Linked DNA regions of Homo sapiens. The protein of the gene in region 1 interacts with the protein of each later gene in a pairwise test. Each region holds a gene or a part of one and is shown on either strand. Other genes may lie near its edges. The genes, in order: VILL and LITAF.

Region 1 (16,257 bases):
TTTGCCCATAGCTTCAGAATGTTCTGCAATTTTAGACTTTTACTTTTAACTGATCACTGTTAAGCAAGGGAGGAAATTTACCACTTCTCTTTGTGATGTAATATTGCACAGTGACCCTAAGTGGAAGCCTTCCTGTGTCCTGGATGTGAGCTCCGCGCTGTCAGTGGTTGGCTTGTAAGCTCTGGCTCCAAGTGTTCTGAGGTGCAAGGAACCGATCTTGTGCAGTAGAAAGAGCTTTTGGAAGTTGGCAAGTAGCAAGGCTAGTTCTCATACATTCTATGCTCTGGCCACCTTTTTCTGTGGCAGGAAAACAAAACAGGCAAATGCACACAAACTGGGTACATTTAACTTTGCCTCCCTGAGCCATCTCCCAAGCCATTTAGCTTTGGATTGGCCTCAATTTGAACAAGGGAACAAACAAAATCATGATGATAACGATGATGACACCAGTCGTCCTTACTAAAGAAAGTGCTCAAAGTCCGGGTACCCGGTTAGGTTAGGAGCAGCCCCCAGCGCTAGATGCAGTCCTGCTGCCTCCTCCATGCACTGTCTTCCAGGTGCCTGTGCAGTCCTGGTTCGATGACATGACGGACACGGAGCTGCTGGACCTCATCCCCTTCTTTGAGGGCCTGAGCCGGGAGGACGACGTGTACAGCATGCTGCACAGACTCTGCAATAGGTAGCCCTGGCCTCTGCCTGCCTCCCGCCTGTGCACTCTGGAACCTCTGGCCTCAGGGGACCTGCCTGTCCTCAGCTCCCTGGGAGCTGAAAGTGAGGATACTCCGTGCTCCAGGCCACAGGGTGAATGTGGCCATGCCTACCTGTTTTGTTTTTTTAAGAACAGAAACAACTATTTTAAAAGAACTCTTTTAAGAAATTTCATAAAGGGACATGCATTTTACTGGGTTTGCTTTTCTTAAAACATACCAAAAAAGAAAAAAATAGAAAAAAAAAAAAAAAAAGCTTGATCTCTATCAGACTTCCTTTCAACTGTCCTCCCCTCCAAGCAGACCACCTGTCCCCTTCTATCCCAGCTCAGAGCAGCTGACCCAACTCAGAATCTCTTTCCTACAGGATGAAGTGCCTTTTGAATGTTATTTTAAGCCGAGAGTTAATTTTTCTACACAACATATTTCCAGACATCTTTTAGTCTTTTATTGTCTTAGATACTATAAGAAGATGAACATGACAATTTTCTAGAACCTGGTAGCGTGTGTGTGTGTGGCGGGGGGTGCTGAGGGAGGGGAGTGAGTCACAGGAGCCTGTCCCCCAACAGGTGTGACTGCTCTGACAACCTGTGGCATGCTGCAGGGTCAGGCTCCTGATAGGAGGATTTCATGACTATGTCATTGTCTCCACTCATTTTTGACCCAGTTTGGAATGTATCTGCAATTGTGTGGCTCAACACTTTAGGAAACAATAGATTATTTTATATTATTATTTCTGATGGTGACAAGTTTGTCTTGAGGTCACATTTTCTCCTTGAAAAGTGACATCCTGTCACTTCTGCTCTCACACTACTGCCATACATTTGTGTTTTTTGTTGTTATTGTTTGGGTAGAGCAGTTACAAGAAACCCTAAAACCCTTGGATATAAAAGAAATCTGTTTATTGATTTTTAAATCTTTCCTTTCCAAAAGCTGGATACACATGGAGCTGTTTGGGAATTTTCCTTGCTGCTACCGCGCTGCCACCAAATGGAATTGACCAGCGGCTGTTACACTGTTCTTTGCCACTGTGCCTATGCTCAGAATATGCTCACTGCTAAGCTACAAACTCGGACAGGGTCAGAAACAGAGGTGTCCCATCCCATTGCAGCCTCCACCACCTGTAACCCCTTCCTGGCATTGGCCACTGAAGGGTACAAAGGCAAAAGGACCACAGCACCACTTAGGTGTAGCATGGATTTTAAACTGCAGTCAGTATCAGATCCTGTTTGATAAATAAGCTGACTGTTCTCTCTTGAGAACCTGTGGCCTCAACCAGCCACCAAGCTGATGTGGCCCAAGTCCATCTCTTGGTCTTCTCCTTTGAAGCACAGCCTATTTCTGAGCCAAGGGTTGGGGAAGCCTGTCTAGATGTGGGACTCATTGCCCCAAACCAGGGAGAGGAAGAGCTCCCACAGGGAGAGCCCAGGCTCTCTTTGCAGCCTTTCCCAGTTTGGTGTTTAAGCAGTGCCATGTTCCTTGTTTGACAACAAGACAGTCTGTAAAGTATTGCTCTTAAAAACAATTAAAAAGAACCCTTTCATATTGGCACCATTGCCTTAGTCCTCTGTGGGTTGGTCTTCAGCCAGCATTCTGGTGGGAGTGACTGGCATTAACAAGACTGGAAATCGGGGGTCAAAGTAAAATATCTTTGTTTTGCTTTCATTCACAAAGTAATGAAGCCAGCTGCCAATTACATCCTCCCAACAGCACTTTGGTCTGTGGACTGCTGTGTGAATATTCAGAAGGGAAGTAAGTATTCAGGGGGTAAACAGGTCTCCCAGCATTCTGAGTGTTCCAAACCAGTAATCCACATGCCAATTCAAATAGAACAGCCCCTTGCTAGATATTACCACAGATAATGACAGTTACATGGTAGAACTGCCCATGCCACAAATATTTATTTGGAAAAGTAGTCATTAAATGAACCCACTGCCTTAAATGTCTTGAATGTTGCAGTCAAGTGTCTGTCATGTGTTGATATCCACACAGAATTAGGCCCTAATGAGAGCCTTAGACCCTCAACCATGCCCCCTTCGTTGGCATCACAGGGCCTTATTTGGAAGAGCGGGCAAAGAGGATGGAAATCATAAAATATTTCATGGGAATCGAACCTAGGGATAGTGCTCCACTTCTGACGATGGAGTGAAGACACTTGGCAGACTTGAGCCAGACACTTCACCTAGTAGTTCCTGAAACTGTGAGCACCACTGCACTAAGCCAGTGCGGAGCTGTTAGGGACGGGCCCAGCTCCTGCACCACGGACACAGAATGTCTGGAGAGGGCCAGCAGGCCCTCTGAGGGTTCTGGAATCTGTGCACCTTATTTGACCACACTCCAAAATTCTGTTTTTATTTTAACCCTTGAATCTGCTTTATGTACATAATCAAAATATCTATATCTATATCTATATCTATATCTATATATTTTTAATCATCTACATGTAAATGAAGCAATAGAATTCTAACATAAGGCCAAGAAATGAGACGAATGTTTGGGGTTTATGTTTTTTAAGGTAAATACGGGTATTGTTTTTAATTATTACCATGTATTAAATTGTGGGCTTTGAAACCTAATGAAACCTGTTAGCCACTTCTCTGTGCCATATACTTCCCATGTTACCAAAATACCCCCAACTCTTTAGCCAAAAGAGAACCCTGACCTCCTGAGTTTCCATGCTCCTTTCTGTACCAGGTTTAAATGTAGTCTTCTGGAGAAGTATTTTTGACATTGAGCTCTGGGACAGGACACCTTGGGTTTGTGGACTGCAGCCCACTATGATGTTATTACTTCTCTGGCCAGGCCTCCAGTGGAAGTGCACAGGCACTCCCAATGTTGTTAATGCTCTGTCTTCCATTTGTTCTGGAATCCTACGTGTTGGTCTGTGGTTCCATGCATTAGCTGTTTGTAAATAATGCATTTGCATACTGAAAAAGGAATGCCACCTGCCACAGTTGATGGTGAGGAAGCTCCTTTGACGTGGTGCAATTTTGATGAGATGTCTCTGGGGACACGAGGATGCCCTAATGATGCTGACTTGTCATGGTTGCAGCATTTGAACTTTTGGTGTTAAAAAAAAAAACCTGTAAGTCTGTAACCTGGCAACATTTTACAACCCTGTATTTTTAAAGATGGCTTTCTAATAAAAAATCCAGAACCACACAGCCCTATGGTCAAACAATCCTACGTTTGTGCCTCTGCTTTTAAAGGTGCTGTGCTGGACAGTTGGCATGCCAGGGTTCGAGAAGAGTGAATGGCTTGACGTACTTGCAGTTAACTGTGCAAAATTGGCTGGCTGCCTCTGTTCCTACTGTACTGTAACTTTGATCATGTCTGTTCCTGTTCCATTCTCCCAGGAGCTTCTCTGCAGACTGACACACCCTCCCCCACCCCGGGTAGTGGAGATGCTGGTGTCTGGGTAGTCATGGATTTCTGCTGGACATTTGAATGTGATAAACAATCCAGCATTACTTAGGAAATGCTACATGCGGAATGTGCACGTTTCCAGGGGCGAGTATTGTCAATCAAAAGGTTTGCAATGATTTCCTTCCTGCCAAAAATAAACATGTGAAACTGCACTCTTTTGTGGATTGACTACTTTTCTACCAGAAGCGCCTCTCCTCCCTCCCTTCCCCGCCTCCTGCGCAGCCTCATGCCATCACCTTGGGTCTCCTGGTATCCCCACTTCCGGGGAACAGGGGTGGATGGGAGTGGGGCTGCAGCACTCCAGGAGCCACAGACTGATTTTCTAGCTCGTCCATCCCACCCAAATTGCCTGTCACTCCAAGGGTGACTGCTGTTCAGCCCCCTGGCTTCCTCCCTCCGGAAGCAGTATGGCTCACTCTTCTCCCACAAAGATTCCAGCCCTCCCAGCAGGCTGGAAAATGCAGCCTGAGAGAACTGGGGCCTCCCATTCCATAAGAACCACAGGCATTATATGTGGTGCCTAAACCCATACCCATACCCATGGGCACAGTGGCCAAGATGATTGCCCGATGAAGCACGGCAAGGAGTCGGAAGAGGAGTCAGGATGTCCCAGGCAGTTTCTCGCAGTGAGACATTCTGTCGCCAGTGCCCTGAACCCAGTCCCTCTGTACATGCAGGTGAGAGAGGCAGCGACTCCTCTGCTAGAGACTCCTGGCAGGGACTTGGACATGGCTTCGCCACTCTCAGGACTCTTTCTCTTCATGATATCTGATTCGGATAGCACCAGTGTCAATTTCATAAGGTAAGTCTTATCCCCATTTTGTGGATGAGAAAACAGGCCAGCGAGACAAAGCTCTGCAGTCTGCTCTATCACAAGATACAGGATTCTACCAGGCATGTATATTCATCCCAAATAACTCAGGACACAGTATGTGTATCAGCCCAGGAGACCTAATATTTACCCAGAGACAAAACCCCAAATACCCCACAGCTAAGCCTGTGCCGTGCCCCTAGGTTCTTTGTCATCACAGTGGAGCAGCTGGCCAGCCAGAGAGAAGTCACTGCAGCTTCCTCCCCTGGTTCCAGACTCCTAGGCTGTGTCCTTTATTCTGCTCCCCAGCCCTCTCTGTCCCTCTCTCACCTTCTCTGGCATCAACCCTGTACCCCACTGCTTCACACCTTTGCATACAGGCAAACAGATAAAAGGCTGAGAGTTGTGGCAGTGCCTGAGGCTGAGGTATCCTCATGAGTGTCCACTGGTCCCCGAAATAGGTGGGAAGGACACACGGGGCATCAAGAGGGCACTTATTTGGGACTTGGACATGCTGAGATATGCCCTTCCGTGTTTTCTAGTTTGAGCACATATCATCTGTGTGTATTACAGGACCAAGGAATGGGCAGGAAGCCCAGGAGGGTGGGAAGGAGTGGCTGGGAAAAGCCAGCCTGGGAACAGTGGCACATCAGCTGACGAACATTCTGTTGAGCTTATGGATAAGGAGTGCATTGAGGGCTTGTGGCCGAGTTGTGGAGTAACCTGGATGCTTGCACGATAAATCTCCTGTGTCAGGGCTGGCTGTGGGTCAGCAGACTGTTCAAGGCCCAGAGCCATCAACTGGCATGGCCACCAGCCTGACCTCTGAGAACAGAGGCCATCGGGAGGAGGACATGGCCCCAGAGCTTTCCACCTCAAACCTCCATTACAGCTCCCTCTCCTGGTGCAGTGATTCTCAGCTCTGGCTGAAGCTGTACCCTAGAATTACCTGAGGGGTCTCAAACATACATCCCTCAAGTCCACCACAGACCATTTCCAATCTCTGCATATGGGGACCTGCGTCATGTTTTTAAGTGCCAAGATGACTGGAAAGGGCAGCCAGGGCTGAGACCCCCTGCTCTGACTGGCTACAGAGGAAAGGCAAGTCCTCCGAAACTGTTCCAGGCCTGATGCCCAGGTGTGGCAAAGGAGCTGTGGCCAGAGCTTTGGGGAAAATGACGTGTTGCTTTACCTGAAAGATCAGCCATATACATGTTCATTGCTAAAAAGTTGGAAAATCCAGAAAAGTACAGAGAAAAGCCCACCTGGGCACTGGGAGCCTTTCCCAAGGCAGGGGTGAGGAGGGAGGCCTGGTGAGACCCCTGCCTGGCTGACAGCACCTGCTTTCACACAGGTGGGGAGCAGAGTGGAGCCCCCCACTACACATTGGAAGGATCACACTGCCCACTAGGCACGGACCCCAGCCTTGCACCACCACCCTTCCAACAGGCCAGGGCTTTCCTGACCCAAGCTGGGTCCTAATGGGTGGGCGTGCTGCTGGGCAGGACCACAGTGGGCAAGGCAGTGACACCTCTTTGCAGGGGCCCAGGGTTGGTGTTTGGTCTGTCCTCTCACCCAGCTGTTCCCGTGGTGTCCTCGGGAGGAGTCACTTCCAGCCTATGCAAGCTCCAGTGACCATTGCCACAGCTCCTTCCACATCCTGCAGCCCAGGGCGGGACCACCAGATGTGGGGACACATGCGGGCCCATGGCTGCTCCCCTCCAGCGCAAGGAGCCAGGGCATCTCCAGGAGTGGGCTCCAGGACCTGAGTCAACAGTTCTCACTCCCCATCCCTGTCTGCCCTCAGAGAGGGACGCTCCTCACAGAGCCCGGACTCCACCACGAGAGGCAACATTCTGCACCTGCCTGGGAAAGACTGGAGAAGGCCTGGGGGATGAAGCCTGGGATAGGATGCCTGAGCCCAGAGAAACTGGGGCGGAGCCTGGACTTATCTTGGGGCCACTCCTTCACCTGGGTCAATATTGACATGGAGCGGGCTGGGCCTTGGAGATAAGCCAGGCAGGAACAAAGTAGGCCCCAAGCCCTGGAAACTTGATGAGTGAGGGGGTGGTAGATGAAGGGAGGCTGGGGCAGGAAGAGGGCAGGGCTTTGCTAGCAAGGCAAACTCTGCCCAGGGCCCTTTTGACTCCTGGCAGGCCCCCTTGAAGAGGGGTGGAGGTGGGGATGGGGATGGGGTGGTGGGACCCCTTTCCTGCTAGGGGGAGGAGGGAGGGGAAGGCTAGGCATCCCACCCTCCCATTCTTGCAGCACCCAGCTGCCTGTGAGCCTGCCCTGGGCCTCAGTTTCCCCTCTGTGTGCCTGGGGTGTGACAGCCATGAGCCGGAGGCTGTCCAGGCCAGACTCAAGGCAGTGCTGCTCATCTTGGCCCCAGGCCAGGCTCTAAGGCCAGACTGCCATCTATCCTGGGCCTGGGATCACAGGTTACAGAGTAGGTGGTTCTGGACAGGGCAGTTCTCTCCAGGTGACATCTTCTGGTTTGCAGAGACCCAGACAATTCCGAGGGTTGGGGCCTTGGAGAAGTTCTCATGCCCCCCACTAAGCTGCTGACACTGGATTGTGCCAGCTGGGGTATCTGGCCCACAACCAAAGTGGAAAGGGGTCACCCCCTCAGCTTCTCAGAGAAGGAGGACTGAGCCCAGTAAAGGGTCCAGATACACACACACACACACACACTGGGTCAGGCGCAGGCCACAGAAACATGTCAGCAAACGTTTTATTAAGCAACTGCAGTGCGCCAGGCACCGTTCTAGACACAGGTGGACAACAGCAAGGCCCTGCCCACAGTGACTCACAGTCCAGCTGGGACACAGACACTAACCAAAGATCCCACTTAGCAAAGAGACCAGCTTCTTGGAGCACCACGATGAGGAAAGTGGTGATGTCTGAGGAGGGAGACTGCTGTGGCTAAGGAGGGCGGGAAGGGCCCTCTGTGGGGCTGCCATTTTGGCTGGGACCTAAATGCAGTAAAGGAGCAGCTACGGGAATATAGAGAGTGGGGCTTCCAGGCAGAGAAGCCTGCAGTGCAAAGGTCTGCAGACAACGACCTGGGCGTCTTCAAGGGACACAAGGAATCATATTGCCAGAACACAGTAAGCCATGGGGAGAGTGATGGGAGAGGCAGCCGGGAACGGCCATTGAGAGTTTCATCCCAGTTTTAGTGGAAGCCACTGGAAGGTTTGGGGAGGGGGGTGATGTGAGCGGGTTTATGGTTAAATTCTGAGGTTGAATTTTCCCTCTAGTTAGTCAAAATCATAGAAAATAGAATGGTGGTTGCAAGGGGCTGGGGGCAATGGGGAGTCTATGTTTAATGGGTGCAGAGTTGCAGAGTTTCCGTTTTGTAAGATGAAAGAGTTCTGGAAATGGTGGCAGTGGTTGCACAACAATATGAGTGTCCTTAACACCACAGAACCGTATACTTAAAAGTGGATACAGGCCGGGCGTGGTGGCTTACGCCTGTAATCCCAACACTTTGGGAGGCTGAGGCCGGTGGATCGCTGGAGGTCAGGAGTTCGCAACCAGCCTGACCAACATAGTGAAACCCCGTCTCTACCAAAAATACAAAATTAGCCGGGTGTGGTGGTGCATGCCTGTAATCCCAGCTACTCAGGGGACTGAGGCAGGAGAATCACTTGAACCCGGGAGGCGGAGGCTGCAGTGAGCCAAGATCATGCCATTGCACTCCAGCCTCGGCAACAAGAGCAAAACTCTGTCTCAAATAAATACATAAATAAAAAGGGGATACAATGGTAAATTTTAAGTATATTTTACTACAATTTTTTAAATCTTGTGAAAAAAAGATTTTTTATATTTTACCACAATTTTTTTAAATCTTAGGAAAAAAGATCCCTCTGGCTACTGTGGTAGGATGGTCGTAGCGGCCAGGCAGACCCAGAGACACAGAGGGAGGCTGGCTCCGGAGCAGGCAGGAGGCGTGAGAGGGAGGGCCAGGCCCAGGATCCACCATGAACCAGCTGCCGACGGGCCAGTGGCTTGCGGGAGAGAGAAATCAGGGCAACTCCAGGTTTGGGGCCTAAGCACCCTCTGGATGTTCACACTGAACGTGTTCCTGGGGCTCAGAGAGGGTAGATCTGGGAGGGGCCTGAGGCGATGTTAAATGTGAGACCAAACGTGCTGGGAGAGATGTGACAGACGGAAGATGGAGACTTAGGCCGGGGCAAGGTTCGGGGGAGTTGGGTCAGGGAGACACTGGCGTTTCCATGCTATTTGCAGCCTTCAGACTGGAACTGGGAAGGAAACTGGAAAACAAACAGGAGTGAAGGCCCAAGCTCTGCTCCTGCTGCCATTTAGAGGCCTGAAGGAGACAGGTGGAGTGAGAGGGGAAGGAACAATGGTGACTGAACTGACTGCCGCTTGGTTGACAGCGGGCATTGGTGACTTAGGAAAGAGCCATTGCCAGGGAATTCAAGAACAAACAGAGCGGGTGGGCTGAGGGGAGATGGGGGAAGAGTCGGTGGGAAGAAGTGAGGACACAGAGTCTTCCTGGGCACAGAGACAAAAAGGGACAGGGAAACGGGTATGCACAGGTACAGTGGACACACTGCCACTGTCACAGACAGGGTCCCTGTCCCAAGTGGGGATCAGACAGACATGCCAGGATACAGGCACACACATGAGGTCGGACAGGCAATGGCACACATGGGGACGAGCCAAATGCCTGTGACACAGGCATCCCTTCACACACAGGGACCCTGCATTGTGTCTGTTAAACACAGTCACACACTAGCTGTAGGTCTTGCTGGACACAGACTGCCCCCGAGTCCCCAAGTCCCCAGACCCCTGTAACAGAGACCTTTGTGGGGTGAAGACTGAACACAGGGAGAGGGTCTTGGGCAGTGGGCAGGCTTTAGCAGCGTGGCTTTGATGGGATGGCCCACGCTGGCTGGGCCTTGGCTGGGACTGAGGCCCTAAGCCGCCAAGAGGAGGTTGTGCCCCTGGAGTTTCTGGAAGGCTCTGTTTGCAGCCCCTCCACCCCACAGTGAGAGAGAGAGAGTGGCAGTGGAGTGGCAGCTGAGGTGAGGGAGAGGTGTCTTCGCTGCAAGAGCTGGACTGGCCTCTCCCATGATGGGTATCAGGGTTCCCTGAGGAGGGCTGTGCCAGGCAGTGAGCTCACATTTGGGTAGGGACAGCAGAAATATCTAGAGGGAGCCCTGACCACCTTCCCCTCCTGAAGTGAGCTGGGTCTCACAGAGCCTGACCCCACAGCCCCCAGCCTTGGTCCTACTTCCTCCTAAAGTTTGCTGGAGTGGCCTGGCCCTCTTGGTCCAGGCGGAGCCCACCACTCCGGGTGAGGGATCAGGGGCCCATCTAGTACTCCAGAGAAGGAAATCCCAGTATCTTCCACACCCCACCTCTTAGCCCAGTCCAGGCCTCCATCCCCTGCTCTCTCTGGCCACTGGTACCCAGGCAGTGAGACCTGGGAGACTTAACCATAGCCCTGGGGAGGGCGCTGGTCCCGACGGCTTGCTCGATATTTGTTGACTGGCTGACTAAGTGAATGCCTAGCCCGCTGAGCACTGTGTGGTGGGGTGTGTCCTGCAGGGCAGGAGCTAGGATTGAGTTACAGTGGTGGGGACCAGGAGTAGGGAGGCAGAGACTGGCCCCGTGCCAGGCCTAGCACTGCCCACAGGCAGGGCGAAGGCGCGGGAGCAGTTTCCAGCAGGTAGGCCTGGGCAGAGAGTTGGGGGGCGGGGGTTTCCAGGGAACCAGTGGGGCAGAGTGGGCTATTCAAGTCAAGGGCATAGAGCATAGGGTCCCAGGGCTCAGGGCCACAGAGCCTCCGCGGCAGAATTGGGAGGCGGCAGCAGCCCAGCAGGTGAAAACACTGATGGGGCAGGGCAGCTGTGGCCGGCAGCCCAAGGGGAAGAAAGTGGCAGATTTTGTAGATGGGCAGGGAAGTCCGTGGCCCACAAATTCAGTGTGCCTGCCCCCAACCCTGGCCCCATCCTCCTTTCCCCTCACTCTAGAGGGCGGCACCACTCCCTGCTCCATGGAAACTGAGCAAGGTAATCTCGGGCTCCCTTCAAAGGTACCCACAAAAGAAGGAAGGGCTCCTGTAGGGAGAGAAAGAGGCACTGGAGGAGGGAGAAAGCGAGGAGAGAGGAGGCACCCAGGGACACGAGGGGCAGGGGGAGAGAAGAGGGGGTGTGTGAAGCGGGTAGGGAGTGCCCCGGGAAAGAGAGGGGAGCCTGGGGAAGAGAAGGAAAGACCTGGGGAGGAGGGTGGGGAGGGAGAGAGGGAGGGGTGTAGGGGAAGACAGGGAACCAGGAAAGGAGGAGGTGCCTGGGGAGGAAAAATGGGAGAAAAAGGGAAGGATCCCAGGGGAGAGGGGAAATCAGAGGGGAGAAAGAAGAACCAGGGGGAGGCAGGGGCACCCAGTGGGGACAGAGGGAAACCCTGGAAAAGCGGAGGCGTGGGGCATGGGGAGAGAAAGGGAAACCAGGGAAGGAATTGGGCATCCGGAAGAGAAAGGGGCCCTGAGTGGAGGAAGTGCACCCCCAGGGAAGAGAAGGAGGGCTTCTAGGAGAAGGGAGAGGACCAGGGATAGGAGGGTTCCCACTTGGGAAGGTGGTGAAAGGGAGTTCCCCAGAGGAAAGAGGGCAGGAGGGTTTGGGAGGCTGGAGGGGGCACTGTGGGGGGTTCCCCTGAGGAAAGAGGGCAGGAGGGCTTGGGAGGCTGGAGGTGGCACTGTGGGGAGGGAGGAGGCCCCCAATCTTTGAGCACCCATTCCTCCCTGGAGTCCAGGTGAAAGAGAATGAACACAGGTGCCATGCGAGTGCGACCTCAGCCCTGGCAGCTGAGGGCTTGGCTCTACGGGCTGGGGCTGGATATCAGACGGGCTCCCGGACCCCTGGGGGCGATGCTGCCTCTCCCAGTGACACCAGCCGAGTCCCAACTTTTTGGCTGCCAGTTTGACTTTCCAGTCCCCCATGTGCCCTGGTTGACACTGTTCTGAGGCCATCCAGTAGTCTTTCTGGCACTCTGTCACCATGTTGTACTCTTCCATGAGCTACAGCTCACAGTTTCTGTCTGCACCTCTGGTCACTGCCTGCCTGGGCCTCTGGTAACTGTCACTGGTCACTATTTCTGCCTATTACTCAGTGTCCTTCTACGGGGCCACCACTGGTGGACATCCTGCTTGTCACCCAATGTCCTCACGTTTTCTGTTGCTTGAGATCACCTTTTCATGGCCACTATGTCTGCCTGTCACTCATGTCATTGTCACACCAACAGGCCATCAACTGTGGCAACAGTTCTTGGGGCAATTAGGGTGCACGGACGGCTCCCTTCTCTATTCATTTTCACTCAGTCCAGTCGCAGGGCAGCACACTTCACTCATTCAACAAGTACTTACTGAGTACCTGCTGGGGGCCGGGCAGCTGGGATCCCACAGTAAACAACAAGACAAACCCCTGCCTTCAGGAATCTGCTGCTCTGGTGAGGGAGACCATAGCCAACAACCATCCTATGGTTTCCATAGGGTGTCGGGAGGAGCTGTGAGCTGTGACGGACCCAGCTCTAACCCCCTAGAAGGACAGCCCACTCTGCCCCTGCTCCCCTGCCCCACAGCCTCCTCCGCTCCCACATTTCTTTGGCTACATGTTGGGTGTTGCCACAGTGTACTGTGAACTCACCAGGGCCAAACCAGGGGCCCTGACAAAGGTGTAAGGAATGTGAGCCACTCTATGACACCTATTGTGCCACACCTGATTCTGTAACTCTGTCCCCTCACCTTGTTCTGCCTGGAGCCAAGGGTGTTCCTGCTATTGATAAGACACAGTGGGAGTGGAGGGGGAGGAGGGAAGGACTAACACACCAGGGTCACCCTGAGTGAGAGATTCAGAAAGAAGTGACTTTTGGACCAAACCTCACACACAGGTTTCTGAAGGAGTGGTGCAGGGAAGCCTCAGGTAATTGAATATGAAGTGCCAAGACATAACAAAATCGACAGAAGTGAGGGTCCCTTCCTTCCCCCAGGTACTTCTCATTCCATGTCACTGTCATTCACTGCCCTCTCATTCTCTCCCTCTCTGCACGCGCAGAACCACAGAGCACAGACTCGAGCAAGCTAAATCGCTATTTGCAGAGCCTGTGGCTGTTTGCAGAGCCTGTGTTTATACAGAGTTCAGCTCTGTTTCAAGAATTTGTCAGCTGAAGCGGGAAGATCACTTGAACCCAGAAGGTGGAGGTTGCAGTGAAGTGTGTTCGAATCATGCACTGCAGGCTAGGGTGGCAGAGCAAGACCCTGTCTCGAAAAAACTGGAAAAAAAAATTGTCAAGTGTTTATGCCTAATCTGCCCAACCCACTCATATCAGCTGAGCCTGTCACTTGCTGCAGAATCTGAGTCTTCATAGTCTGTGTGCTGACATTTGTGTGTTTACAGAGCCCTCCTAATAAAAGTCATGTTCTATAATGAAGTTGTACAGGTAGCCAGGTGTCGGTCTCCAGCCTGAGAACTCTGGCTGTTGTTCCTTGTGTCGTCCCATATTCCTGCCTGGCCTGCGATGGACATCAGCAAGGGCCTCCCAGGCATGCAGGGAGGCCTCCACATATGGATCTCTGAGGTGAGAGGCACGACCAAATAGGAGAGTTGGTGACATGGAAGAGCGTGGGGTTTTCCACACTAGGCTTCTCCCGCCCCCAACTCAGAGCGTCCTCTTCCACCCCACCCCAGCGGGTGTCATGGGTAGAGGCCTCCTGAGTTGTTACAGGGAACTCTCCTCTCCCAGAACCGGAAGATGGTGCCGGTACCCGAGGGGGCTTACGGGAACTTTTTTGAGGAACACTGCTATGTCATCCTCCACGTGAGTCGCTTGGGGAAGTCTGCCTGAGAGGGGTGGCATGGCCCGGCACTGGGGAGACTGAGGCACAGGCATAAACTCTGCCCTGGGAAGCGGCAAGTTGAGAGCCGGAGAATCACATCCCACAAGGGGGCGGTTACCGTTGAGGCTTCTTAGTCCTTCCCTCCCACTTCCTGATCTCCGCGGAAGCCCCTGCCTAGCGTCTCCCCATGGCCCTTGGTACATCCTCCCCTTCTCCACCCGCACCTCCGTCTTCCCCGCAACACATATACACAAACACCCGGACCCTAGGTCCCCCAGAGCCCGAAGGCCACGCAGGGGGCGTCCAGCGACCTGCACTACTGGGTCGGGAAGCAGGCGGGTGCGGAAGCGCAGGGCGCTGCGGAGGCCTTCCAGCAGCGCCTACAGGACGAGCTGGGGGGCCAGACCGTGCTGCACCGCGAGGCGCAGGGCCACGAGTCCGACTGCTTCTGCAGCTACTTCCGCCCGGGAATCATGTGAGTGCGGGGGCGACCGGGGCAGGAGGGAGCCGTGGAGGCGGTGCCTTGGCTGGGGCAGTCTTGGGATGGCCATCGTCCACATCCCTGAATGGGGCAAGCCGGGAGGGGTTGGGTAACACCTTTATTGAGATACAACTCATACGCCATACGATTCACCCATTTAAAGTACATATACATGTCAGTGATTTTTAACAGTTGTGTGCAACCATCACCACAATTTTAGAACATTTTCATCACCCTAAAAAGAAGCCCCATACCCCTTTGCCACCACTCCCCATTTCCCTCCAACACCCCCATCCCCTGCCCTAGGCAACCACTCATCTGCTTTGTCTATACATTTGCCTCTTCCGGGCATGTCATAGAAATAGAATCATTCAACAAATGGTCTTCCCTGACGGGATCTTTTTGTTTTAACACACTGTTTTCATGGTTTATCCATGTTGTAGCATGTGTTATTACTTCTTTTTATTACCAAGTAATATTGCATTTTATGAATATACTACATTTTATTTATCCATTCATCACTTAATAGACATTTGAGTTGTTTCCACTTTTTGGCTGCTATGAATCTGTTTTTATGAACATTTGTATACAAGTTTTTGTGTGGACAAATGTTTTCATTTCCCTTGGTATATACCTAGGAGCAGACACCAATGTTGTTTTGAGTTTGCTTTTATGTTACTGTGCTGGTAGGAATATATCTTTCGCTGTAAATTGCTTCACAGGTGTTTTAAATTAACACTAGCAATATATTTGGAAATATAGGAAATTGCTATTTGATCATTTCCATTTCATACAGTTGAACCTATATATGCATATAGCATATACATGAACACATGCACACAAACATATGCGCAGATGCAGAAACACACACCACCCTCATGTATGTCCACCTATAGATGGACATGTGTGAATATCCATGTTCACCTACACACATATATGCTGTTGCCCACCTTCATGCACTCACCATCTAGACTTACAGGGATAAACAAATACACAGTGTGCCCCCAAATGTATGTACATGTACACATATATGCATGTGTCCACATGACTACGCATGGAAGTGCACTACACATGGAAATGAATGCACACTCATGCCCTATGTGTGCACCCATGTACTTATACATACATGTGTTCACACAGACTCCAGTGCATGTATGAAGCAGGCACATACGTGCACGTGCTCACATCTGCAGTCATTCATGCACATGGCAGTCTGTGTTCTTATATACACAGAATGTATATACCCTCCTGCTATTCCCACCTCAGCTACAGGAAGGGAGGCCTAGCATCTGACCTCAAGCATGTGGAGACCAACTTGTTCAACATCCAGCGACTGCTGCACATCAAAGGGAGGAAGCACGTGTCTGCCACTGAGGTGAGGCTGCCAGGGGAGCCTCTTGACCTCTGAACTCGGCTCAGACTGGGTGTACTGAGGTATAAGGAGGTTGGAAATTGGCTGGGGTTGTGGGGAACAAGGAGCTGTCAGCATTCCCAGATGGTCTTGAATGAGGAGAACAGAGAGGACACCAGGCTTCTAGCCCCACTTCTGCCACTGCTCCCCGGACCTTTTGTTTATGCGTCTATCTCAGGGACATATTGAGAACATGGGCACAGCTACTTGGGAGGCTGAGGCAGGAGGATCGCCTGAGCCCAGGAGTGATTCATGATGACACCACTGTACTCCAGCAGCTTGGGTGACAGAGAAAGACCCTGTCTCTGAAACAAAAAAAGAACTTGGGCAGATGGGGCAGATGATATGGCGCCTGTGAATGGTCCTTGTTAGCAGCACAGTGAGAGGTGGTGCATAACCTCGCACTCTCTCACACACATTGTCATTGTCACCTATATGCACACACACTGTCTCCCACTGTTATCCCCGGGTGCTCCTCTGGTCCATAGAGTGCCCTTGTGCAAATCAGAACAGTGCCCCTTTCTTCCATCTGTCAGGAAATTACAGGAAAATACTGGT
Region 2 (15,658 bases), on another chromosome or scaffold:
CAGGTGGTTGAAGACAGTAAATGGAAAATCCACTGAGAGGAAGGAGCTGGAAGGCGTTTCCAGCCCAAGTTAATTTTCAAGAAAATAAACAGTGCATATTTTGCTGACATTACCCATCCTCACTGCTCAGAGGTGTATAATAGCACTTTGAGAATGGGCTGGTGCCGTTTTGTGACTTAAACTTCTCCCACTGAATAGGAATTTCCCCAGAGCTACAGTGAGGGTGGAAAAAAGAGGATCTGCAAGAGGAAGTCCTGTATTCTTGGCACTGTGACTTGTCCTCTATTTGTTTTCGCTTTTACAGCAGTGAAAATAGCCCCGTGGGTGAGGCGGTCTATCAGGTAAATAGACTTCCTTAGTTCTGTGTTTCTTTAGCACACATATTTTTGACGTCTCCCGGGTCTGTTTGGCCACCCATGGTCTGTTCTGAATTTGATTGATGTTTACTTGCCTAAGAATTGTTATTTGAGGTCAAGTGGCATTTTCCAGGGTCCTCATAATTTCATCTTGTTGTTTGAGCCTGTATTGATTGACACTCTGGACACAGGTGACAACAGCTTTGTAGCTAATGAAGTTGTCCCTTGGCTGCAGGTTATTTCAGTAGAAGAATTGTGTAATTTCATAGAGCTTAAGGCATGGACACAAGAAAGGAACCATTCTGGAGGGTGTCTATGTGATGGTAATTCTCTGCTCACCTCGCAGTAGGTAGGAGTTTATATACCAGGATCCAAAGCTGGAGGCTTCAGAGAAAATAATGTTGGAGAATTTAAGCTATTTAGCTCATGGAGCCTTAGATTTAATTGACAGTGTGCCTCAGGTAAGTTTAAGAGCTTAATGATGTCTTGCCTTAAACTTGAATCCATGAGGTTATTCCTAGATGATGCACTGATAGTTTGAAATTTTTTATTAAAAAATATTAAAGTGTGGAAGATAAAGAAGAAAGGCATAATCTTATAGAACGAAACAACTACCACTGGCTGTCCTTATCGGGCGGCTTCTGTCTTTTGTCTTTGTGCCTGTTTTCTATGAAATTGTCATCAGCGTTCATACAATTTTGTATCCTAATGCAGTCTCAGTCTTATTAATGATCTCCTTGCACTGTTTGATGAAAAACTGTGATTCACGTGGAAACTAGGGATGTGGTTTCACCAGGAGTCCAGAGGAAAACTGCCCACTCTGATTGTGGGGGAGCAGCCCAACTCCCCGATGGAAGCATTTTCCATTCCACAAATCACTGTGATTTGTCATTACGCCATGCTTGAACCTGGCTTTAAGATTGTGGTAACTTTATCTTTGACTTGTGGGACATACCGCCCTGCAGAAACAGCCTGAACTCAGAAGATGGAATTGGCACACATTTCTCTGAAATATTTCACTCTGAGCTTCTGTACTTTTACTGAGGTCTACTGAAACTGGAATTTGTTTGGGATCAAATAACCAAAGGCCAATTTCTCGCTTCCTTTCCCAAAGAGCTGGAGGTCCGGGTTTCCCCTTTTGTCTACCTTCCTGCTTAACCATTTATGGCTTAAGACGCACCATTCACCTTGAACATTTTCAGGAATGATAGACAGGTTAAATTCCATGACAACAAAAACCGTATTGCAGAATTATTGTAGCTTAAAACCTGCCAGGTGACCCTCCTTAGTTTAAGAATTTTAAGCAATATTCAATTTAATAAGTGTACAATTTGGATAGTTCCTGAAAGTTGATTATAGTCAGGATCCACTGTGCTCCCATTATTGGAAATAACGTTTTTCTCCAGAGACCCTAAAAGACCAGACCTTTTTGACCCTCGCAGCTGGTTCTCTTTCTTGTTTACAAACTAGGCTATTTTCTTAGGGGACCTGACAATTTGCATGTGAGTGCCCTTCTTTTGCCTAAGGAATCCCTTTTTTTATTCTGGGGTCATTTCTGCGATATACATATTCATGGGCCTAGCTTAGTGTTTCTTTTCTGGGGGCTGGGAGATGGAGACCAGAGTAGAATTGAATATTTCTCCTTTTTCTTCCTGGAAGAATCGATCTTCGAGGATTAAGTTGGTAGTTAAAAAGCCGCTTTATCTTTCTGAAGGCCTTGCCCTTTTATGTGTTGATCTGATACCCAAATGTAGAAAACAGTTCTATACACAGCTTGAGGATATATTTTTAGAAGAGTTTACCACCCACATGTGGCTAAAGCTTTGTGGGGAGTTCTTTTTTTTTTTTTTTTTTTCCGTTGTGAGTGAAATAGATATTTCACTATATCTTGCTCTTGTTTTCAAACCCTTTAAAAAGCCATTGACCATTTTCTCTTTTATTTTTAGTTGACACATAATAATCATACACATTTATGGGATAAAGAGTGATATTTTCTTATATGTCTCCAGTGTGTAATTGATCAAAGAGTAATTGGCATGTTCATCACCTCAAACACTTATCATTTCTTTGTGTTGTGAGCATTCAGAATTCTCTCTTCTAGCTATTTGAAAATATACACTGAATAATTGTTAACCATATTCACCCTACAGTTCTACAGAACAGTAGAACTTATTCCTCCCATTGAACTGTAACTTTGTACCTATCAACCAACCTCTCTCTAGCCTCTCTTCCCCTCCCCTTTGTAACCTCCAGTAACCACAGTTCTTTTCTCTACTTCTGTGAGCTCAATTTTGTCGTCCTTCCTTTGTGGAAGCTGTGAAATACCTTTCGAGGGGAGTGCGGACTTGTGGTCAGGTGTAAATATGCATTCAGCTGGGCAGAGTTTGGGAGATTCCTTTAAAACCTGTTCTTTTGCTGAAATTCTAGGTATCTTTTTATTTTATTTTATTTTTTATTTTTCACCTCATCAGTTAGAAGTGTCAGAAACTCTCCTTTACCCCCCACTTAGTCTTTGGCATTTAACCAAAATATACTTTATTTACTTATATATTTTTTGAGATAGGGCCTTGTTCTGTTGGCCAGGCTGGAGTACAGTGGCGTGATCACAGCTCCATGCAGCCTCAACCTCCCTCTCGAGCTCAAGCCATCCTTCCACCTCAGCCACCACACTAATTTTAGTGGTTTTTTGTTGTAGAGACAGGGTTTCGCCATGTTACCCAGGCTGGTCTCAAACTCTTGGAGTGAAGTGATCCATCCATCTTGGCCTCTCAAAGTATTGCCATTACAGGCATGAGCCTCACCCCAAAGCACTCAAATTTTGTTTTTTTAAATTGAACTTGAGTGCTTTGGGGTAAGACCTGCCTATTCCATTTCACCTTATAGTTTTTCTTACTCTTGGCCTATGTAGGGGAGAGAGAAGACTTTCTTTCTGCCTTCTGAAGGTACCATAATTGAGCCTATGAAATAAACTGATGATAGATTAACGGATGAAAATACATACAAATTTATTCCATGCATAAATGTGGGAGTCCCACAGAAAGTGAAACTCAAAGCAAGGTCAGATAATTGAAGTTTATGTAGTGTGCCTGAGCTACGAAAAAGGAATAAGCGGCTGGGCGTGGTGGCTCATGCCTGTAATCCCAGCACTCTGGGAGGACAAGGCAGGAGGATCGCTTGAGCCCAGGAGATCAAGACCAGCCTGGGCAACATGGCAAAGCCCTGTCTCTACAGAAAATACAAAAATTAGTCTGGCATGGTGGCTCATGCCTGTGATCCCAGCCACTCTGGAGGCTGAGGCAAGAGGATCGCTTGAGCCTGGGAGGTCGAGGCTGCAGTGAGCCGAGATAGTGCCACCGCACTCCCGCCTGAGTGACAGACAAGACCCTGTCTCAAAATAAAAAAGAAAAAGGAATAGGGGCCTGGGGCTCCTGGAGGCAGGTGGTGATAGGTTATAGAAGGGTAAGGGGAGGAAATGTATGGTGAACAAAGGTTGCCTTGTTAATGCAGATAAAAAGCCTCTTGAATGATGAAAGTTGTCTCAGAGTAGCCTCAGAAGAGCAGGTGATGGCTTGTGACCAGGTGTCGACCTTCAGTCTCCTCTCCTAAGTTAAGATCTTCCAGCCAGGCACGGTGGCTCACGCCTGTAATACCAGCACTTTGGGAGGCCAAGGTGGGTGGATCATGAGGTCAGGAGTTCAAGAACAGCCTGGCCAACATGGTGAAACCCCGTCTCTACTAAAAATACAAAAATTAGCCGGGTGTGGTGGTGGGCATCTGTAATCCCAGCTACTCAGGAGGCTGAGGCAGGAGAATCACTTGAACCTGGGAGGCAGAGGTTACAGTGAGCTGAGATCACACCACTGTACGCCAGCCTGGGCCACAGAATGAGACTCCGTCTCAAAAAAAAAAAAAACTTCACTGGTTGATGAGGGTCCTATGATAGTCACTTTCCTTTACACAGATCAAGTATCTCTTCTCTGAAATGCTTGGGACCGGAAGTGTTTCAGATTTTGGATCTTTTTTTCAGATTTTGAAATACTGCATTCTACTTACTGGTTCAGCATCTCTAATCCAAAAATCCAAAATCCAGAATGCTCCAATGAGCATTTCCTTTGAGCATCATGTCTGTGTTCAAAAAGTTTCAGATTTTGGATTTTCACATTTGGGATAATCAACCTGTAGATTTCAATTTATTGTATCAAAGGGCAGCTTTTCAGAGCTGCTCCTGTGTCTGCAGTTTCTCAGAATAATCAGCTCAATATATGCCAAAGAAATAGATCCTGAGGTGACATGTTCTAGTCTCCTGCAGTCATATTTTGGGGTAGTGTGTCCTGAGCCCCATCACCTATCTGACTCATTTATAAGTGGGATCCCTGAAAGTATTTAAATAAACTTTTAATTTTGGCATAATTTTTGATTTGCAAGAAAGTTGTGAAGTTAGTACAGGGAGTTCCTCACCCAGTTCCTGGTTCTCTCCATTATTCACATCTTACATCACACAGTATGTTTGTCAAACCAAGAAACTGATGAGGGTATGTTATTGTTCACCAAACTCCAGACTTTATCTGGAGTTCCCAGTTCTCCCACTGATGTCCTTTTTTTCTGGGCCAGGGTCCTAACCTAGGGTACTACATTGCATTGATATATTTTATTTTATTTTATTTTATTTTATTTTATTTTATTTTATTTTATTTTATTTTATTTTATTTTATTTTTTGAGACGGAGTCTCGCTCTGTCGCCCAGGCCGGACTGCGGACTGCAGTGGCGCAATCTCGGCTCACTGCAAGCTCCGCCTCCCGGGTTCACGCCATTCTCCTGCCTCAGCCTCCCGAGTAGCTGGGACTACAGGCGCCCGCCACCGCGCCCGGCTAATTTTTTGTATTTTTAGTAGAGACGGGGTTTCACCGTGTTAGCCAGGATGGTCTCGATCTCCTGACCTCATGATCCACCTGCCTCGGCCTCCCAAACTGTGTTTTATTTTTTTGAGACAGAGTTTTGTTCTTGTTGCCCAGGCTGCAGTGCAATGGCACAATCTCAGCTAACTACAACCTTGGCCTCCCGGGTTCAAGCAACTCTCCTGCCTCAGCCTCCCGAGTAGCTGGGATTACAGGCACGCACCACCACACCCAGCTAATTTTTGTATTTTTAGTAGAGATGGGGTTTCCCCATGTTGGCCAGGCTGGTCTCGAACTCCCGACCTCAGGTGACCCACCCGCCTCGGCCTCCCAGAGTGCTGGGATTATAGGCATGAGCCACTGTGCCCGGCCCCACATTGCATTTAGTCATCTTGTCTCCTCAGCCACCCTGGCTATGTTAGTTTCTCAGTCTTGCTTTGTTTTTCATAACCTAGATACTTTTTGAAGATGAGGGATTCTGTAGAATTTCCCTCAAATCAGGGTTGTCTGATATTTTTCTCATGATTACAGTGGGGTTGTGGGTTCTGGGAGGAGAAGACCACGGAGGTGAAGTGTCCTTCTCATCCTGTCACATCAGAGGGCACATGACATGCACATGACATTGCAGATGTTAATATCAAGGGAGAGAGTAAAGTATTCCTGATGTTAATTAATATCAAGAGAGAGAGTGAAAAGGAGGTATTTGCCAGATTTTCTCGCTTGTAGTTTACTGTCTTTCCCTTTTCATAGATGGAGTTTTGCTCTTGTTGCCCAGGCTACAGTGCAATGGTGCGATCTTGGCTCGCTGCAACCTCTGCCTCCTGGGTTCAAGCAATTCTCCTGCCTCAGCCTCCTGAGTAGCTGGGATTACAGGCATGTGCCTGTATATAGACATGTTTCCCCATGTTGGCCAGGCTGGTCTCGAACTCCCGACCTCAGGTGATCCACCCGCCTTGGCCTCCCAAAGTGCCGGGATTACAGGCATGAGCCACCACGCCTGGCGACTCTGTTCTTTGAAAGAGAGTCAAGGAGTCCAGCCCACACACAGGAGAGGAAAGGGAGAGATTAAATTCCACCTCCTACGAGGTGCCATGGCTCATGCCTATAATCCCAGCAGTTTTGGAGGCTGAGGCGGGTGGATTACTTGAACCCACGAGTTTAAGACCGGCCTGAGCAACATATTGAGACCCCCATCTCTATGGAAAGTTAAAAAAAAATCGCTGAGTGTGGTGGTGCACACCTGTAGCCCCAGCTACTCAGGAGGCTGAGGTGGGAGGATCATTTGAGCCCAGGAGTTGAAGGCTGCAGTGAGTTACGATCAAGCCATTGCATGCCAGCCTGGAAATAGTGGAATGAGCAAGACCCCATCTCTACAAAAAATAGAAAATTAGCTGGGCTTGTTGATGCACACCTGCAGTCACAACTACTCGAGAGGCTGAGGGAGGAGGATCGCTTGAGCCCAGGAGGCTGAGGCCATAGTAAGCTATGATGGTGCCAATGGTGCCACTGCACTCCAGCCTGGGTGACAGAGTGAGACCCTGTCTCAAAAAAAGAAAATAAAATAAAAGTGCATCCCCTGGAGAGGGAGTATCTACTCATACTATTTGGAATTTGTCAGTGAGGAAGATTTGTCTTTTCTTGTTTAAAAAATAGACACTTCTGGCCAGGTGTGGTGGCTTACACCTGTAATCCCAGCACTTCGGGAGGCTGAGGTGGGTAGATCACTTGAGGTCATGAGTTCGAGACCAACCTGGCCAGCATGGTGAAACCTCATCTCTACTAAAAGTACAAAAACTAGCCGGGCGTGGTGGTGGGTGCCTGTAATCTCGGCTACTCGGGAGGCTGAGGCAGGACAATTGCTTGAACCTGGAAGGTGGAGCTTGCAGTGAGCCGAGATTGTGCCACTGCACTCCAGCCTGGGCAACAGAGGGAGACTCCGTCTCAAAAAAAAAAAAAAAAAAATAGACACTTCTAATGAGCTGATGCCATAGATACCCTGTCATAGATGGGATAGATGTGCCATATGGGCACAGGAGACCTCAGCTGTGCAAGGATGTCAGATGCACTTGGCTTTCTCAAGCCCTCGTGGGGAAATATAGATCACATCCCTTCCCCTGGGGTGGGCAGAGAGTAACGTAATATGGTCCAGTTAGGGAAATATTAATAGAAGCTAACTTGCAGACAGGAAGCAATTAGGATGCAGGAGGAAGACATATGTCATCAAGGGCTAGATCATGTGGTGTCAGCCAGGGGATGTGAAACAGGCATGAAAAGCGCTTGACAGGCAATGTCCACCACCACCCTGTTCCCACATTATCCGTAAGTCTTGCTAAAGGCAAGATTGCTGTTTTCTGGAATTTTCAAAGACAGACAGTTGGACTACCTGCAGTCATCTGGAATTTGGCCAGAACAAAGGAAGTAAGCAAATAGAAGACTCCCAAATAAGGTATATATTTATCATCAAAGCAGATGCCCAAGCCTGTTTACCTCACTCAGAGGAGGCGCCCACGGCAACTATGAACTCTTACTTTACACAGAGTCCTTGCACGCTGGGTTCTGCTGGTGTCCAAGTCCTCAGAGGCTTTGAAGTAGCAAATTGTGTTGGTGGGATGGAGCCGCCATCAGCCCCATGTTGGACTGTTGGCAGCCTGGGACCGTGTAGAACCACAGATGTGGACACAAGCATTTTTCCTTTCCTTTCTCTTTTTCTCTTTCTCTCTCTCTTTTTTTTTTTTTTTTTTTTTGCAGATTGTAAGAAAGGAGAGGGGAATATGGGAATTTATTTATTTATTTACTTATTTATTTATTTTGAGACAGTGTCTTGCTCTGTTGCCTAGGCTGGAGTGCAGTGGTGCGATCTCAGCTCACTGCAACCTCCACCTCCCAGGTTCAAGCAATTCTCATGCCTTAGCCTCTGGAGTAACTGGGACTACAGGCATGCACCACCTTGCCCAGCTAATTTTTGGATTTTTAGTAGAGATGGGGTTTCACCATGTTGGCCAGGCTGGTCTCGAACTCCTGACCTCAAGTGATTCACCCGCCTCGGCCTCCCAAAGCACTGGGATTACAGGCATGAGCCACCGTGCCCAGCTGGGATCGATTTTAGAAAAAGATTAAGGCTGAGTGCAGTGGCTTATGCCTGTAATCCCAACGCTTTGGGAGGATCACTTGAGGCCAGCCTGGGCAACATAGTGAGACCCCGTCTCTACAAAAAATTAAAAATTAAAAAAACTAGCTAATCATGGTGGCATGTGCCTGGAGTCCCAGCTGGTCGAGAGGCTGAAGTGGGAGGATCACTCGAACCCAGGAGTTCAAGGCTGTAGTAAGCTATGATTGCGCCACTGCACTGCAGCCTTGGCAACACAGCGAGACCCCGATTGTAAAACAAAGTTCAGTTTAAGAAAGAAAAAAGAAAAGAAAAAGGTTAAGATACTTTTTTCGGGGGAATGTTTACAGAGGCTGTGGGTCAGAATGAAGCAACACCAGAAGCTATGGAGACTGGGGTTTCTGCTGTGTTTCAACTTGGTTTTTTGTGTTCTCGGGAGAAGACACCCTTGGCCGTGGGCCGTGAGACCTTTGATGTGTGTTTACGCTGACCGCGAGTTGTTGGGATGGCTTCTGCGGTGGGTGGTTCTCTTGGTATTCTCGGTTTTGAAGCTTATTTTTAGACTCTGAACTCTCCTTCTTGGCAGGAGTTGAATCCCCCTGGGGGTTTTCAAGTTGTTCTTGGACTGCTGGTTTTTGAAATAGAAGCCCCTTTGGTGGGGTCCCCCATAAACCCAGGCGCTGGTGCCCACCTTGTGATGTGAAGGCTCCTGTAACACGACCTCACTTTCCTGGCCCCGCACTACTCACCTGCCCCACGGGACACAGGTACATGGCTTCTGGGTGTCTGTCCCCGCTGTACCCAGATCTGCCCCCTTGCCCTTGTCCCCAGATCCTCCACTCGCTCCTAGGAACCGTACCCCTCCCAAAACAAAAAAAGAAACTATACCCAGTCTCCCCTTCATATCTCTCCCACATCTGCCCCTGTTGGTTGACTTTGCCTCCCTATATGGGTCCCATAAGGCCGGCAAGGGAGGGTCCACATCTCTCAATCCTTTGTCCACCATTGGTGTTTAGAACCCCCTGGAGGAAAACTGGATCATAGTGCAACATGAAAAAAAAAGAACTTTAGGCCGGGTGCAGTGGCTCACGCCTGTAATGCCAGCACTTTGGGAGGCCGAGGTGGGCGGATCACTTGAGGTCAGGAGTTCGAGACCAGCCTGGCCAACATGGTGAAACCCTGTCTCTACTAAAAATAAAAAAATGAGCTGAGCGTGGTGGCATGCACCTGTAATCCCAGCTATTTGGGAGGCTGAGGCAGGAGAATCGCTTGAACCTGGGAGGCAGAGGTTGCAGTGAGCCAAGGTCACGCCACTGCATTCCAGCCTGGGCCACAGAATGAGACTCTGTCTCAAAAAAGAGAAAAAAAAAACTTTATATTGACAAATAGGATGTTGTTAGTGCAAATTTTGGGGTTGATATAGTGGGAGTGGTAAAGGGAACGTCTTCTTACCAAATAGAAATAATTAGAAGCTTTAATCACTCTGCAAACAGGGAAGGTCCCAGGGCCAGGTGCTGGGCAGGAACACAAAGGGCTGTGATGACATCACCTTTACCCAGAGGCGGGAAGGACCCAGGATGGAGGCCTGGGGAGGGCAGAGACAGGTTTGCAGAGGAGACTTTCTTTTTTAATTAAAAAAGTATGTATTTTGTAAATATGTAATATTACTATGGCTTAACATACAAAAGACCAGCAAGGGTGTAAAAGTGACCAGTGTTTGTCACACCCCATCCCCTAGTCCACCTGGTTCCCTTCCCGACAAACACCGACCGTTAAGTTTCTTATGTATGCCTTTGGAGACATTTTTTGCATATTATATAAAGAAATACTAGGCCAGGCATGATGGCTCATGCCTGTAATGCCAGCGCTTTGAGAGGCCAAGGTGGGAGGATTGCTTTAGCCCAGGAGTTTGAGACAAGCTTGGTCAACATACTGAGACCCCGTCTCTACAAAAAATAAAAAAATTAGCTAGGTGTGGTGGTGCACACCTGTAGTTCTAGCTGCTCTGGAAGCTGAGGCAGGAGGATCGCTTGAGCCTGGGAGCTCCAGGCTGCAATGAGCTATGATCATGCCACTGCACTCCAGCCTGGGCAACCCAGTGAGAACCTGTCTTTAAAAAACCCAGTGAGAACCTGTCTTTAAAAACAACAACAAAAAAAAAACCAAAAAAACGCCGGGCACCTTGGCTCATGCCTGTAATCCCAGCACTTTGGGAGCCCGAGGCGGGAGGATCACTTGAGGTCAGGAGTTTGAGACCAGCCTGGCCAACGTGGTGAAACCCCATCTCTACTAAAAAGACAAAAATTAGCTGGGTGTGGTGGTGGGCGCCTGTAATCCCAGCTATTTGGGAGGCTGAGGTAGGAGAGGTGCTTGAACCTGAGAAGTGGAGGTTGCAGTGAGTCGAGATCGCGCCACTGCACTCCAACCTGGGCAACAGAGCAAGACTCCTAAAAAAAAAAAAAAAAAAAAAAGGATATCTTCTTCTCTCACCATACACAAATGGTGGCACACTACAAACACTCTCCTGCCTCATTAAACATGATAGTATATCTTGGTGGTGATTGCATTTCTCCAAATAAAACTCTTCCTCGTTTCAGTACCTTGTGGGGAGGGACCATCCCTGATTGGTACCCTTGCCTTGCTGGCGGACTAGGCTTCTGCTGTTACCAGCAACGCTGTAGTGAATACCCCATGTGCTTGTCATTTTGTCATTTCAGCCACATGTGGGGGTTATTGCCAGCACACATTTCTGGAGGAAGAGTTGCTGGACTTGTTCATGTTAAATTTGGTTGGCCGTTTCTGTTGCAGGAGCCTCAGTTTATCGATACCCAGGCTAGCTCTCTGTGTGTGTTACCAACATTTTGCTCTTTGCCTGGTGGATGGGTGACAAATGATATCATGATATCATGGCATTGGTTATGGGGTTTAAAAAAAATCTTTTATGGCCGGGTGCAGTGGCTCACTCCTGTAACCCCTGGCCTTTGGGAGGCCGAGGCAGGCGGATCGCTTGAGGTCAGGAGTTTGGGACCAGCCTGGGCAACATAGTGAGACCCCATCTCTACCAAAAATACAAAAAGTTAGCCAGGCGTGGTGGCACACGCCTGTAGTCCCAGCTACTCAGGGGGCTGAGGCATGAGAATTGCTTGAACCTGGGAGGCGGAGGTTGCAGTGAGCTGAGATTGCGCCACTGCATGCCAGCTTGGTTGACAGAGTGAGACCCTGTCTCAAAAAAAAAAAAAAGAGCTTGAGATGTGCAGAAAATTGGTACAATTAATACAGAGAGCTCCCATTTACTGTCACCCAGCATCTACTTCCCTATGGGACACTGGCCACAACTGCTTCTCTGACACCGCTGCGTTACTGTTTACCAAACTCCAGGCTTTATTTGGACATCACCAGTTTTTCCAACTAAGGCTTTTCTGTGCCGGGGTTCTACGTTGTATTCAGTTGTCACCTCTCTATTCATTGTCCTCTGGTCTCTGACAGTTTCTTGGACTTTCCTGTTTTCCGTGACTTTGACAGTTTTGAGGAGTGCTGGCCTGATGCCCTGTGGCCGGTTTTCTCATGACTACGTGGGGCTGCGGGTTTAGGGGAGGAAGGCCACAGAGGCCCTTCTCACCTCATCCTGTCAGTCAGCCGGTGTGTGATGTCCCGTCAGCAGGTGTGTGATGTCCCGTCAGCAGGTGTGTGATGTCATGTGACTTCTCGCTGGTGTGTGATGTCATGTGACTTCTCGCTGACGATATTCAGCCCGATCATCTGTCTCTGTGTGGTTTTAGTTGCATCTCCCTGCTTTTGAGGAGGACTGGAGCATCATTTCATGCATGAGGACTCGGGGTGTTGTCTAGGGGAGGGCTGTGGTCAGCTTGATGCGTTTGAGGTTGAGGGGTGGGGGGAACCACAAGGGCTTCGTGCAGACCCTGCGTACCTGGGGAGCAGGAAGGGAACAGGAGTGTCTTGACGTGGAAGGTGGATTTGGAGGAGAGGCAGGTCACTGGAGGGGCTGAGGACCCAGGCTAAGGCAGGAGGGGGATTTTGTTTTGATCTGTTTATTTGTTTGTTTGTTTATTTATTTATTTATTTTGAGATAGGGTCTTGCTCTTTCACCCAGGCAGGAGTGCAGTGGCGTGATCACAGCTCACTGCAGCCTCAAACTCCTGGGCTCAAGTGATTCTCCCACCTCAGCCCTGTGAGTAGGTGGGACTACAGGTGCGCACCACCACGCCTGGCTAATTAAAAAAAGAGACAGAGTTTTGCCATTTTGCTCAGGCTGGTCTTGAACTCCTGGATTCAAGTGATCTCCCCACCTCACCTCCCAAAGTGCTGGGACTACAGGCATGAGCCACCGTGCTTGGAAAGATTAAACCATTTAGGAGACCTCAGGAAAAGAGCCAGCCGAGAGGGCGTGATTGGCAAGAGGGGACATTGTCTGAGCACAGTCCCTCCCAGAGACCACAGGGCCCACTCCCACCTAGAGATGGCCACATTCACCAGATTGAAGTTTGAACCAGAGGAGGAGGGCTGCTTCTGAGCCCAGGGCGGGCAGACAGATGCCTGGGGGTTCAGGTGGGAGGTTGAGGGGGTCTGACCTCTGCCTGGTGCCCCCTGCTGTGGGAGGGGGAAGAGTGCCCATTGAGAATCTGCAGGGCCAGTGGGGAATCTGGGCAACCCAGCTATGAGGGTGGATGGATGAGTTTTCTAACTCATTACCCTGAACTCAGTGGCTTAGGTAACGTGAATGTAGTATCTTCCAGTTCTGGAGCCTGAAGTCTGCAGTGGGCTTCCTCAGATTAAATGCAATGTGTCGACTGGGCGCAGTGGCTCACGCCTGTAATCCCACCACTTTGGGAGGCCGAGGCAGGCGAATCACCTGAGGTTAAGAGTTTGAGACCAGCCTGGCCATCATAGTGAAACTCCATCTCTACTAAAATACAAAAATTAGCCAGGCATGGTGTTGGGTGCCTGTAATCCCAGCTACTCAGAAGGCTGGGGCAGGAGAATCGCTTGAACCTGGGAGGCGGAGGTTGCAGTGAGCTGAGATCGCACTACTACACTCCAGCCTGGGCGACAGAGTGAGACTTGGACTCAACAACACACAAAAAATAGCAGTGTCAGCTGGACTGTGCTCCTGGAGGCTCCTGGGGAAAATCCATGGTCTTGCCTTTCCCAGCTTCCAGAGGCCGCCTGCATTTCTTAATTTATGGCTCCTTCCTCCCCCTTCAAAGCCAACAGCTTCCTTTTTCTACATTTAAACCCAACAGAGGTCTTGCTCTGTTGCCCAGGCTGGAGTGTAGTGGTGCAGCTGTGGCTCACTGCAGCCTCAACCCCCTAGACCCCACCCCCCAACCTCCTTCTACCTCAGCCTCCCAAGTAGCTGGGATGATACATGTGCGCTATCACACCTTGATAATTTTTGTAATTTTTGTAGTGATGAGGTCTCTCTATGTGGCCAGGGCTGGTCTCGAACTCCTCTACCTTTCTCTTATAAGGACCTTTGTGATTACACCGGGCCTACCTGGTTAATCCAGAATAACCCCCTCATCTCAAGATTCTTAATCACATACACAAAGTCTGTCTTTACCACTTAAGGTCACATATTCAGAGCTTCCAGGGATTAGGCTGTGAACAATTTTGGGGAGCATTATTCTGTCGCCCACACTGCGGGTAGGGGTGGGAAGGTCAGACTGTAGGGGATTTAGCCAAACAAGTGAATGTCTACCTGTGAAGCCGTGGAGGTACTGGGTACAGAACAGGTCCCTGTGGCGGGATGAGGTCTGTGCCTGGGTCCTCCTGCCTCTCACAGTGAAGCCCCCGTGTGACTGTGGGAAAGTCACCCCCTCCCTGGGTTTTACTCTCCTCTGTAATGACAGCTGTGTGTTGATATAATAGTAACCTGCTTACCCAATGTTCCGGTGTATTTTGCTCACTACATTCTCACAGCAGCCCTCTGAAGTGTAAGTACTACTGTTGGCCCATTTTCCAGATGAGGAAACCTGAGAGAAATTTGGCAACTCACCCCCATTTGCACACCGTAGAAGTGGCAGAGTTGGGATTTGAACCAAGGAGCCTGGGTCTTAGAGTTTCTGCTCTTAAAGGTTTGACCTGCCTTAAAATTCTGCCATTTTAACTTTTTTTTTTTTTTTGAGGCAAAGTCTCGCTCTGTGGCCCAGGCGGGAGTGCAGCAGTGCGTCTCGTCTCACTGCAATCTCCGCTTCCCAGGTTCAAGCAATTCTGCCTCAGCCTCCCAAGTAGCTGGAATTACATTCAAGCACCACCACACCTGGCTAATTTTTATATTTTTAGTAAAGACAAGAGTTTTGCCATGTTGGCCAGGCTGGTCTTGAACTTCTGACCTCAAGTGATCCACCTGCCTCTGTCTCCCAAAGTGCTGGGATTACAGGCGTGAGCCACCACGCTTGGCCCCATTGTCTTACCTTTCTTTTAGCCCTTTTTATTTCCCTCTTCATGCCCTGCCTGTTCACCATCATCTGTGTCTTCTCTTCACTCTGAGTAACAGTTGGGTGTTCAGTTGACCAGGCCGTAGTCCACGCCATTCCTACTCTCCCTGAGCTATGAGTGAATCTGTGACTCTTGTAAATAACAGGGGGACACACAGAGGTGTTTCTGAAATTTCCACATGTTAAGTTATCTTGATTTAATCCCAGCACTTTGAGAGGCCAAGGCAAGAGGATCACTTGAGGCCAGGAGTTCGAGACCAGCCTGGGCAACATGGCGAGACCTCATCCCTACAAAAAAAATTAAAAATTAGCCAGGCATGGTGGCATGTGCCTGTAATCCCAGGTACTTGGGAGGCTGAGGTGGGAGGATCACTTGGGCCCAGGAGTTGGAGCCTGTGGTGAGCTATGCAGGTGCCACTGTACTCCAGCCTGTGCAATAGAGTGAGATTCCTTCTCAAAAACAGAAATTTATCTTGGGCACCAGGCAGAGATGTCCAGCCTGTATCATCTCTGAGCTTAGTGGCCTCAGTTTTCCCACCAGGCCAATTTCTGATGGGATTCTGCTCGGAAGCCCCCGCGTCCTGTTCAGCTGCTCAAGGGCAGTTCTCAGCCTTGGACACTATCCGTCCTACTCGTCCTTCCCTTTTGGGCTCTGTCTGCCTGTTGGCCATTTCACCAGAGAGGGATGGGGTCAGGGAGGAGAAAGGCCCTGAGACTCCTTTGACAGTGGTGTCAGGCTGAACACAGTGGCTCATGCCTGTAATTCCAGCACTTTGGGAGGCTGAAGCGGGTGGATCACTTGAGGTCAGGAGTTGGAGACCAGGTTGGCCAATATGGTGAAA

The links.
Region 2: the proteins of VILL (region 1) and LITAF interact in binary tests that used the Homo sapiens proteins (3 or more experiments, as listed by UniProt).

Annotation. Positions count from the first base shown.
Region 1 is NC_000003.12:37,980,185-37,996,441, forward strand, and holds the start of VILL (villin-like protein), read left to right. Parts: upstream 1-10,601; 5' UTR 10,602-10,645; intron 10,646-10,949; exon of another isoform or gene 10,950-10,988; intron 10,989-13,402; 5' UTR 13,403-13,488; coding exon 13,489-13,548; intron 13,549-13,713; coding exon 13,714-13,788; intron 13,789-13,953; exon of another isoform or gene 13,954-14,076; coding exon 14,077-14,282; intron 14,283-15,554; coding exon 15,555-15,663; intron 15,664-16,257. Other genes in the region: CTDSPL (CTD small phosphatase-like protein), read left to right, coding at 558-679, 1,641-1,707. UniProt on the Homo sapiens protein: Possible tumor suppressor.
Region 2 is NC_000016.10:11,568,873-11,584,530, reverse strand, and holds part of LITAF (lipopolysaccharide-induced tumor necrosis factor-alpha factor), read left to right. Parts: intron 1-7,538; exon of another isoform or gene 7,539-9,125; intron 9,126-15,658.